3 linked regions of the Homo sapiens genome follow. The protein of the gene in region 3 interacts with the protein of the main gene of each other region in a biochemical or structural test. Each region holds a gene or a part of one and is shown on either strand. Other genes may lie near its edges. The genes, in order: NCKIPSD, PDCD6 and DIAPH3.

Evidence for each region.
Region 1: the proteins of DIAPH3 (region 3) and NCKIPSD form a complex in vitro, tested with the Homo sapiens proteins (one study listed by BioGRID).
Region 2: the proteins of DIAPH3 (region 3) and PDCD6 interact in far-western blotting, tested with the Homo sapiens proteins (one study listed by BioGRID).

What each region holds. Positions count from the first base shown.
Region 1 is NC_000003.12:48,679,178-48,682,925, reverse strand, and holds part of NCKIPSD (NCK-interacting protein with SH3 domain), read left to right. Parts: coding exon 1-23; intron 24-373; coding exon 374-578; intron 579-769; coding exon 770-881; intron 882-1,145; coding exon 1,146-1,639; intron 1,640-2,696; coding exon 2,697-2,867; intron 2,868-3,038; coding exon 3,039-3,125; intron 3,126-3,212; coding exon 3,213-3,351; intron 3,352-3,468; coding exon 3,469-3,549; intron 3,550-3,742; coding exon 3,743-3,748. UniProt on the Homo sapiens protein: Has an important role in stress fiber formation induced by active diaphanous protein homolog 1 (DRF1). Induces microspike formation, in vivo. In vitro, stimulates N-WASP-induced ARP2/3 complex activation in the absence of CDC42.
Region 2 is NC_000005.10:302,632-306,379, forward strand, and holds part of PDCD6 (programmed cell death protein 6), read left to right. Parts: intron 1-1,545; coding exon 1,546-1,590; intron 1,591-3,748. UniProt on the Homo sapiens protein: Calcium sensor that plays a key role in processes such as endoplasmic reticulum (ER)-Golgi vesicular transport, endosomal biogenesis or membrane repair.
Region 3 is NC_000013.11:60,157,329-60,161,076, forward strand, and holds part of DIAPH3 (protein diaphanous homolog 3), read right to left. Parts: intron 1-3,748. UniProt on the Homo sapiens protein: Actin nucleation and elongation factor required for the assembly of F-actin structures, such as actin cables and stress fibers. Required for cytokinesis, stress fiber formation and transcriptional activation of the serum response factor.

The sequences.
Region 1 (3,748 bases), on a different chromosome or scaffold from region 3:
CTGGAACAGCGTGGAGTCCTCCAGTGAGTGTTGAGGGGAGTGAAGTGGGACCTCCCGGTGAGCATGGTGGGGTGGGGTTCTTCAATGAGTGTCATGGGGCAGGTGGGCCTGGGAAATGCGAGGGTTGGCAAGGGTGGTGGGGGAATGGCACCTCCCAGTGAGCAAGGTGGGGTCGGGTCCTTCAGTGAGCACCAGGGGTGTGCAGAGCGCAGGACTGAGGATAGTATGGGGTACTGTAGGCTGGGGTGGAGCATGGAGGAGATGGGGATGTCTGAGGGGCCTGGGCTATGGGGTCCCAGCATCCCACAGGGGCATATGAGGACTTTGAGCTGTGAGATGCAACCCCCCAATAGTCTTCCTGTCCTTCCATCAGGAAGCTGATCCACCACCGGAAAGAGACCCTGTCACGCAGAGGCCCTTCAGCCTCCAGTGTTGCAGTTATGACCTCATCAACCAGTGACCACCACTTGGATGCTGCTGCAGCCAGGCAGCCCAATGGGGTGTGTCGAGCTGGGTTCGAGCGGCAGCACAGCCTACCCAGTTCTGAGCATCTTGGGGCAGATGGAGGCCTCTACCAGGTGTGTGGGGAGGACATCGTGGAGAAGGGAGGTGGGTGGAACTTGAGGCTTCATCCAGAGGCTCAAGGGGTCCACTCAGGAGTGATGCGGCCCAGAGCCATAGTCCTGCCCACAGCCAGGGCTCAGGGCCCGAGCCTCGCTGACGCTCTAGATGTCAGTCTGTCCTCCAAGATCCTACTTCCATCTTCCAGATCCCACTTCCATCTTCCCAGATCCCACCACAGCCTCGCCGAGCAGCACCCACCACACCGCCCCCACCAGTGAAGCGCCGAGACCGCGAGGCCCTGATGGCCTCTGGGAGTGGTAAGAAGGCAGGGTTAGGGGAATTCAGGTGGAGGCACCCTATGCTTGGAATGGTTGTGCTGCCTGTGTCAGGGAAATGGAGGCTCTAAGCTGGGGAAGAGGACAGGACTCCCATTTTGGGGCAATTAGGGGCTCTGGGCTTTGTGAGGAGGCAGTGCCTAGCAGAGAAACTAGGCCCTGTGTTAGGGGACAGGGGATCTGGGCTGTGAAGGGTATGGTTTTCCAGGGGGCTGCCCTGGCCCAGCTTCTACTCACTGCTCGCAGGTGGCCACAACACCATGCCCTCCGGGGGTAACTCTGTGTCCAGCGGCTCCTCAGTCAGCAGCACCTCCCTGGACACGCTCTATACCAGCTCCAGCCCATCTGAACCAGGCTCCAGCTGCTCACCCACACCCCCACCTGTGCCCCGCCGAGGCACCCACACCACCGTGTCCCAAGTCCAGCCCCCTCCCTCCAAGGCATCAGCACCTGAACCCCCTGCAGAAGAAGAAGTGGCAACTGGTACAACCTCAGCCTCTGATGACCTGGAAGCCCTGGGTACACTGAGCCTGGGGACCACAGAGGAGAAGGCAGCAGCTGAGGCGGCTGTGCCCAGGACCATTGGGGCCGAGCTGATGGAGCTGGTGCGGAGAAACACTGGCCTGAGCCACGAATTATGCCGGGTGGCCATCGGCATCATAGTGGGTCACATCCAGGCCTCGGTGCCGGCCAGCTCACCAGTCATGGAGCAGGTCCTCCTCTCACTCGTAGAGGGCAAGGTGAGGGTGGGCGGCACAGCAGGGCCACCCTGCTACCCACCCTGTTCCCACCGTCACACACTTGTCCAGCCTGTACATTACAGGTATTTCTCAAGCTCTGGCTCTGAGCTCTTACTGTGCTGGGCACTGGGGACGTTGAGCTGATTTCTGAAGCAGAAAGGAAGGACAAGCATTCCAGGCAGATGCGCAGCCTGGACAAGGGCCACAAGGCAGGACTGAGCCTGGCTTGTGGGAGGAAGTGGAACAAGGCCTGCAGGACTGGAACACAGGGAGTGAGGGAGTGGGTGCTGTAGGAGGAGGTGAGACCTGGGGCAGGTGACAGATAAGACGACATGCGGGTGGCCAAGAGTTCTGTCTGGCTGCAGGGAAGGAATGGACACGGCGTGGGTGAGGGTAGTGCCTTGCTGACCTTGGCAGTAAGAGACATGGGTGCTGGGAGAGCTGGGATGGAGTCCTAGGTGCTGACATGGATGAGAGGGAGTGAGGTGTGTGGGCATCATGGGATGGGTGGGATCCTTGGCACTCATGAGCAGGATGGGGGCAGTGAGCCCAGCATACATGATGGGGGTCAGACAGACCAAAGGTCCCTCTTTAGTGCTCCATGGTTCCTGTTACACTTCTGGTTTGGGTGTTGGGGAGTGGGCCAATGGGCTTGGCTGTGCTGGGCACAACAGCTAGTGCCTGGTCAGCAGGGTTCAAGGAAAATGTGGCAAGTTGGTAGATGACAGGCCTGTGCCATTTTGTGTGGAATGGGAGAGTGAGGTCTCAGAGTCACATTCTGGCAGTGACAGAGTTCATGGCCCTCCTAGTTGGGGGTGTTTATCCAGGTCTGGGATGAGAGGCGAGCTGTTGAAAACCCCCTACAGATGAGTCTCCCGTTGACTCCTGTCCTGGGAGGTCATCAAGACTGGAGTTGAGCCTCCTGTCCAGTGTGGGCCAGGAGGGACTTGAGTTCATGGAGTAAAAGTCCACAGATGGACTCTCCAGGCCTTGGAGGCTCCCTGGAGATGGTGAGGGCAGGGAGTGTGCTGAGTCATGCCTTGCCCTCTCCCTCTAGGACCTCAGCATGGCCCTGCCCTCAGGGCAGGTCTGCCACGACCAGCAGAGGCTGGAGGTGATCTTTGCAGACCTGGCTCGCCGGAAGGACGACGCCCAGCAGCGCAGTTGGGCACTATATGAGGATGAGGGTGTCATCCGCTGCTACCTAGAGGAGCTGCTGCATATTCTGGTAAGGGTGGGGTCCCACACACATACCCCACATGGGGAACAGTGGCCCCCACCCTGTAGCATCCCTCACAGTGCTAGGAGTCTCCCCTACACATATGTGCTCAGCCCTCTCTTGTGCGGCTGCACAGCTCCGCTCATGGTGGCTGATGCTCTCACTTCCTCATTTCTGTAGACTGATGCAGACCCTGAAGTTTGCAAGAAAATGTGCAAGAGAAACGAGTTCGAGTCTGTCCTGGCCTTGGTGGCCTATTACCAAATGGTATGTGCAGGATGGAGGGGAGGGGTAATGGAGAGACCTAGATAGTGGGGGAGTTCCAGGCACTGAGCACGCAGGGTTCCCTGCCAGGAACACCGAGCATCACTGCGGCTGCTGCTCCTCAAGTGCTTTGGCGCCATGTGCAGCCTGGATGCAGCCATCATCTCCACGCTTGTGTCATCCGTGCTGCCTGTAGAGCTGGCGAGGGACATGCAGACAGACACGCAGGGTGAGGCTGGAGGGCGGGGTAGGAGGGAACTTCCTGCTATCTGGAGGGTGTTCCTGCCATCTGCTGGGGTTTCCTGCCATCTTTGGGGACTCTGACTGCCTGCCTTGTCCCCCCCAGACCACCAGAAACTCTGTTACTCTGCCCTCATCCTGGCCATGGTCTTCTCCATGGGAGAGGCAGTGCCCTATGCACACTATGGTAAGAATGCAGTAACCGACCAGCTGATCACAGGTCCTAAGCCAGGGCCCATTGCCCGAGGGCCTGGGACCTGCTGACTACACAGCCTAGCAGGGAGAGGCTATCCCCAAGGCTCACAGAAAGCCAGGAAGGGTGGGTGGTGCGGGGGTCGGAGGGGAATGGGGCTGCAGACTTCTGTGCGCCCCTCTCCCAGAGCACC
Region 2 (3,748 bases), on a different chromosome or scaffold from region 3:
TGCCTTTGTGGGAAGAGCACAGCTTCCCCGCATAACTGCTGGAGGGTGGGTCATCGAGTGCTGCTGTGTGTGTGGGCCACGGGTTCAGGTGCACCTGCCTTTGTGGGGAGAGCACAGCTTCCCTGCATAACTGCTGGAGGGTGGGTCATCGAGTGCTGTGTGTGTGGGCCACAGGTTCAGGTGCACCTGCCTTTGTGGGGAGAGCACAGCTTCCCTGCATAACTGCTGGAGGGCGGATCATTGAGTGCTGCTCTGTGTGTATGCCTCAGGTTCAGGTGCACCTGCCTTTGTGGGAAGAGCACAGCTTCCCTGCATAACTGCTGGAGGGCGGGATCTTCCCAAGGGGAAGTTGGGAGGTGCTCAGGCGGAGCAAATGGATTTAACTTCTGGGCTGGGAGAATGTGGTACCCCCGTGGAAGTCTCCCTGAGGAAGGAAAGGAAGGAGCTGGAGGGAGGGTGTGTGTGTCTTAGGAGGGGACGCACTTCAGGTGAGAGCGGGCATGGCACTAGGAGGAGCCCCATGAGCCCAGAGTGGTGGCACGTAGAGGCCTAAGGGACCATGCCAGCAGACCCCACCGCCCGTGCTCCACCAGGAGCCTGACATTGTTCTCTGAGATCAGGGGGCTGTCTCTGTGTACTGCCCAGGACTGTGGCATTTTTGTGCATAAAAAAAAAAAAAAACTGTGTGTCTAACACAGACGGGGTATGAGGAGAGCCACTGGTCTCTCCTGACCTTAAAAATATTTTTTTAGTTCATTTTTAGTGAGTATGGAAATTACTGAAGGTACAAATCACTCTGAAGATAGGTTCTTGTGTGCGAAGGTCATCAGTGAATCTTCATTCTCAGAGTTGATAAATGGTTGTGAGCGCTCAAGGGTATCAGATTCAACGATGAGTCTGAGGATAGTACAGCTTTCCTATTCAGTTTCAAGGAAAATCATATAAAGCCCAGACCGTAATTTGTCAGGAATGTTTGAAGTGTGGTGTGATGGATGTCTTCACCGTGCTTTAGGATGATTACTGAGGGAGAACGGAAGGAAGGGGTCTGGTACTTGCACCTTTCAGTAGAATTAGTGTGAATGCCACAGCGACCAAGCTATGTTCAGGTGTCTGCAGGCAGTGGTGGCCTTGATGATGGATTTTCTGAAATGGGAATTCGTGAAGTCCTCTAACAAAACTAAGTGCGAACTTCTCAACTTAGCTGGTGACTGCATCCTTGAAAAATTCTGTGTGTAAAATGATACAGAACCATTTCTTGGTTATCTGTTAAATAAGAGTGCATGTCCAGCCGCGATGACTGTGGACGGCCTTGGAGGTCTGGGAGGCCACGAAGGACTCCCACACACAGCAGGGTGTGAACCCACCAGGCAGTGCTTTGGCCCCCTCCCAGGAGTCATGGCAGCCGACACGTCACCTGGAGTGTCTAGAAAACCACTACCTTAGAGCCCCCACTGCTTTTCCTGGTGCCTCCAGGTATAGATCACAAACTCAGTGTCCCAGAAAGATTTTCCTTTTACTTTAACTCCTGTTGTTGTTTGTTTTCAGGCACGTGGACTCCCTTTAATCCAGTGACTGTCAGGTCGATCATATGTAAGTATCGGCAGACGGACCAACCTGGGCTGCTTTGTATCCGACCCGCTTGGGTACCCGCTTGTGTTTCCTTTGTCTGTGGGTCCGTATCACTTTGCTCCCTTCTGGAATTCCACTTAGATGAGCGTCGGCCCTTTCATCCCTCTCCCTCCGTCTCTGTACCTTTTCACATCTCTCCGTGTATGTTTGCTCTATTCTTGATTCTGTTTATTTTTAATGTACGGTGTAACCTGTCCTTTCAGTTTCTAATTCTAAAGATGACATATATTTAAAATTTCTAAATTATTAGTTACTTTCACATCTTATCTGGGTGTTTTTGATAGACATTGCTTATTTATTTTTGTGATTCCATTCTTTATTCAAATATTTCATATGATAGTCTTCAGTTTTAAGAACATGCTTTTTTGAAAAGCGCTAGATATTTGTGACATGGAGCTCCTTGACTGTGTTTGAAGTCCTTGGGAGGGTGGTCTACAGCCAGATATTTTTCCTGCTCAAGCCCACACAGAGTGACCAACTTCCTTGATGCTTCTGTAATTTTTGTTTGTTTTGTGGGTTCATGTGTAGCCTTAATGTGAGGGTCTGCATCATTTCTTTGGGTCCAGGGTCTCCCCAGCTGTATAGGCAGCTGGGTTTTTGTTTGTTTCTTTTAAGAGACAGGGTGTCCCTGTGCTGCCCAGGCCTGGTCTGGAATTCCTGGGCTCACGCAATCCTCCTGCCTCAGCCTCCCAAAAAGTGGGGATTACAGGTGTGCACCCCCATGCCCAGACGGTAGCCGGGGTGTGAGCTGAGGCTCCAGGCGCAGGCAGGTGTTCAGGAGAGTCGTGCTGTGTCTCCATCCCCCGTAGCCAGGTGGGAGCTGCAGCTCCAGGGGCAGGCAGGCCTGGGAGGCAGGTGTTCAGGAGAGTCATGTTTCCATCCCTACCCGACTTGATTTCTGGAAGGTTCCCTTTGCTGGGAGGTGCAGCCCCCTTCAGACCTCTTTAATATGGAATCCCAGGTTCAGTTCTGCCTCACAGGGACCATGGCATTGTGTCTCGAGGTTTCCCAGAGCGGCCTGGGGCTCATTCCCTCGCCTCCCATCCATGCACGTGTTTTAGTCTTGTGAGGATTCCCTGAGTTCCTTGCGGAGCCTGTGTGTGGTGAGGTGTCTGAGTCCTAGTGTGGGTGTAGCTGGGGGCTTTTCCAGATGACTGTGCCCTGCTGGTCGTGCATATGTTGCTACGTCACACTGATGGAGGGAGAGAAAACTTGGAAGTGTAGTAGTGGCAGGGCTCAGCCTTTAGTGCTAGAAAAGGTGTTGATACATGGGGAGCTACCTCCCCACCGGAGAGGAATGGCCTGGGAGCCACTCCTCTGCGGAGCCCTTACCCTGGGGTGCAGCTCACCCAGCATCCTTCCCTGCTGGTGTGTGGTGCGCAGTGGGTCCTGCACGCAACAGCATCGTCCACACACACTGCACACATCGTGGAATGGTCGTATGAAAAACAGCCCCTGGTCCACACACCACACACGTCGTGGAACGGTGCACGTCGTGGAACGGTTGTGTGAAAAACAGCCACTGGTTGCACACAGGGTTGTGGACTGTTGGGAAGAAACATCGATGCTGTTTCTCACATGATTTTTCATCCTGTGGATTTTCATTTAATTGTAACATATTTCTGATCAAACCAGGAGTAGTCTTATTGCAGTCCTGTATTAACCTCTGTTCTTGAAAAGAGACCACGTGATTTATCATTTTCTCTGCAGCAGTAATTCACACTGAATTTTTCTATGTTTTTTAGCCATATTGCAACTACATATAAAGGTAGTTATAGATTCTTTTGTATTTGGACCTGGAGTTAGACTGAAAGCAAATAGGACATAGGCGAGGGTCTGTTTCTAATTAAAGCAGGTTTTCCTGACAGGGCTGTTCCAAGACTCCACCAGTGCTGTGGGCCCTGGAGAGTCAGAGGGTCAGCTCTGGGAATTAGATTCGCGTTCTAGGCCGAGACCCAGGAGCCAGGGGAGCTGGGGCCACTTACCTTCCCCGTGCCTCGGAAGCTGAGTGTGAAGCTCTGCTCTTCTTTCTGTCGTGGCTGCGGCTGGATTTCCTCACACATCCCATTGCACGGCCTGCCTCACAGCTGCAAGTGCACCTTCTCCTGGGACTTAGGGG
Region 3 (3,748 bases):
TGGCAAAATAAGCATCACATCCTGACTATGGCCAAAGGCAAAAAATGGGCTATTGCTTCTTGTTAGCCTTTTTCTTTCAGATGTTGTATTTTTCAATGCTAGAATTTCCACTGTGGTCTTTTTATAGTTTCTGTTTCTCTACAGAGGTTTCCTATCATTTCATTCATTGTGAGCATATTTCATTTATATTCTTAAATATGGTTATACAACTGCTTTAAAATCCTTGTCTATTAATGCTTACAACTGAGTTATCTTGAGACTGGTCTCCATTGATTCCTTTTTCTTGTTTGTATGGGTCACATTTTCCTGTTTTTTCCTAATGTCAAATACCTTTGCACTGTATCCTGAACATTGTGAATGTATGGTGTAGGGACTCTGAATTCCTTCTATTCTTCTGAGAAGTATTGCTTTTTGTGTTTGTTTTAGCAGGCAGTTAACTTGGCTGAACTCTCAAACTGCACATACTGTCCCATCCGCTGGATGGGACCTGAAATCTTAGTTCAGATATGTTAGCCCTACCTGTGCTGCTTGGAGTCTGTCCCATACATGTAGGGTTCAGAAATTTGAGGACTCTACACACAGAATTTGGGGCTACCCATTTGTGGCTCCTTCTCCTCTCCAGGATTTTCTCCTCATTTATCAGCTATATGGTCACCAGAACTCTGCCCTCTGGTTTTTTATGCCAGTACAACTGTGGGCTTATATTCTAGTTTTAACCACCCCACATGACCCTGATTAGGGGCTTCCCTTATGCAAAAAGCTACAAAAAATGACAAACTTATCCAGTGCTAGTCCCTTCTTCCAAGTATTGTCTCCAATAGCCATGTCTTTTGATCACTCTCCAGTGTTTTAATAGTTGCTTTTTATAATTTTGTCATGTGAGAGGTCTGTGGTCCAATGAGATCTCAGCCAATACTGGATGCAAAGTTTTTGTTAGTTCCTTTTTACAGAGCAAAGACATCTTTCTCAGAATTCCCCAGCAGATTTCTCCTTTAGCTTACTGGCTAGAATTGTTTTCATCTGCTCTTTGTTAATCCTCTTTGTTCTGGGGCCTGCATGCCTGGAAGGATTTGGCTGCAACACACTGGCTGGTATACATTAATGAGTTGGGTTACAGCTTATTCATTAAGCTTGTGAGCTTAGTTAATGTGTATCCACCTCAGACATAGATTCAATCTCCATGTGCTGACCATATCACTGTCCAAGGCCCCAGATGTCCAGATGTGTGGAACTTTGGGGCTGCCTCCTCCTGGTGGAGTTCAACAGGCCCAGGCAGAGGTTGCTTGAACCACCTGTGGTTGCCCCAGCTAAAAGGGGAGAAGCAGCCACATTCCACAATCTGGACTGGCTGGGAAGCTGAGCAGGGAGTTCTAGAGTGGCAGCCCAAACTCAGGCAGGCAAGCACTGAAGGATGGTTCCTCATCCTCCCAGCAGGAGGTTGGAGGCTATGAGATACCCTGTCTCTCAGGGGCTGGAAGAGCAAAGAGCAGTATCTCTTTCAGACATCCTGCTGTCAGAAGTTACACCACAGCACAGTCATACATTGGGTTTAATTGTTGCTCCTGCCTGGCCCCTCTTAAAAAAAAAAAAAAAAAAAAAAAAAACCAAATAACCTGTAAAGTCATTTTTTGCCATATAAGGTAACATTCACAGGTTCCAGGGATTAAGGAGTGTCTACCTTTCAGAAGATCATTGTTCGGCCTACTACACCTGCTTCCAAATAACCCAAAGTAATTGGCAAACATGCACTAATCTCATTAAGCTTACTGGGATTTCATCTGTACTCAAATTCCTACTACGTGTACAATCAACAAAAATTCTCCAACCTTGTATATCTTCTCACCTCGCAGCCTGCCTATAATCAGAAAATCAATTCTATATTCATATTATATATTAATTAAAGGCATCACTAATTATTGCTAATGGTTCCTGGATGAGAAAAGAAGCAGTAAAGATTAAAGTTCCCAACAGCTATGGGAGAGAATTCAGGACAGTGATTAAGAATGTGTATTCTAGGCCAGGTGCGATGGCTCACGCCTGTAATCCCAGCACTTTGGGAGGCCGAAGCGGGTGGATCACTTGAGGTCAGGAGTTCAAGACCTGCCTGGCCAACATGGTGAAGCCTCATCTCTACTAAAAATACAAAATTAGCCGGGCGTAGTGACACGTGCCTGTAATCCCAGTTACTAGAAGGCTGAGGCAGGAGAACTGCTTGAGCCCAGGAGGTAGAGGTTGCAGTGAGCCAAGATTGTGCCACTGCACTCCTGTCTGGGCAACAGAATGAGACTTTGTCTCACAAAAAAAAAAAAAGAAAGAAAGAAAGAATGTATACTCTGAAGCCAGCTTGCCTAGATTCAAATCTCAGCCTCATGAACTGGCAGCTGTGTGATTTTAGGCAGCTTAATCTCTGTGTACCTTGGTTTCCTCCTATGGCAAACAAGATTAATAATACTACCTACCTCACAAGGTTGTTCTAAGAATTAAAGGAGTTGATAATTACAACGCACCTAGAACAGTGCTTGGCTCACTCAGAAAGGTTAACTAGTATTACCATCAATGCCCAAACATGGTAAATATACAGAAATTAAAGGACAAGGTGAAAAAATCTCAAAACCGGCCAGGCGCGGTGGCTCACGCCTGTAATCCCAGCACTTTGGGAGGCCGAGGTGGGCGGATCACGAGGTCAGGAGTTCGAGACCATCCTGGTTAACACGGTTAACCCCGTCTCCACTAAAAATACAAAAAATTAGCCGGGCGTTGCGGTGGGCACCTGTAGTCCCAACTACTCGGGAGGCTGAGGCAGGAGAATGGCATGAACCCGAGAGGCGGAGCTTGCAGTGAGCCGAGATCACGCCTCTGCACTCCAGCCTGGGCGACAGAGCAAGACTCCGTCTCAAAAAAAGAAAAAAAAGAAAAGAAAAATCTCAAAACCAACACTGAAGGTACTACAATGACATAATCAATCAATAATTAACAATCTATTTGATGGAAACGATTAGACGATTTACACTGAAGTCTGTGAGAACTTTTAGAGGACTCTCCTAATTAAAAAGAACTCCTTCATCAACTTGGACCACCAATTTACAGGCTCCCTTTGAATGGACTGACCTACATCCTAGAGATGGACACTTCTAGAAGCCACATGTCCTGCTCTGCCACCACTACCTGTGTGTTGCCAAGAGTAATGAGAAACAGGTATTACTGAAAGGCTTTCCACAATCTGTAGGACAACTGTTCTGTTCTACAAAGGATATAGGACTCAGGTCCAGGTATTGAGTGTGGCCTAGGGCAGGTTCCAAGTTTAATTCCTACGGAATTTTATCTGCCTTCACAAAGTCTCCACCCAGATACTTGCCCTGTCCTCTCAGCCTCCTCCATCTCTCTTCTATGCCCCAGTAGCTATCCCTACCATCTCAATGCTCACGGCTTAAGATATTTTCAAATGAGACCAAGTTGGTTAATTCACAAGCATCCCAAAGTCAATTGATTCGTAGCACAGCCAAAGTATCATACAATTACAATAGACTAATTTCTACTATTTATACTTATCTATGGGAAGAGATATCTAAGCTACAAACTCTTTTACCCAACTCACAAGTGACTTGAAGCCCGCAACTATACATTTGGTAGAAAACAAGAATTTGCCAACTTTAACAGGACTCAAAGTAAAACAAGATTTCAGCGGGTACCAGAGCTCCTGCTTTCTTACACTAAGATAGGAGGGAGTGACCAGTCTACCACTCCATTC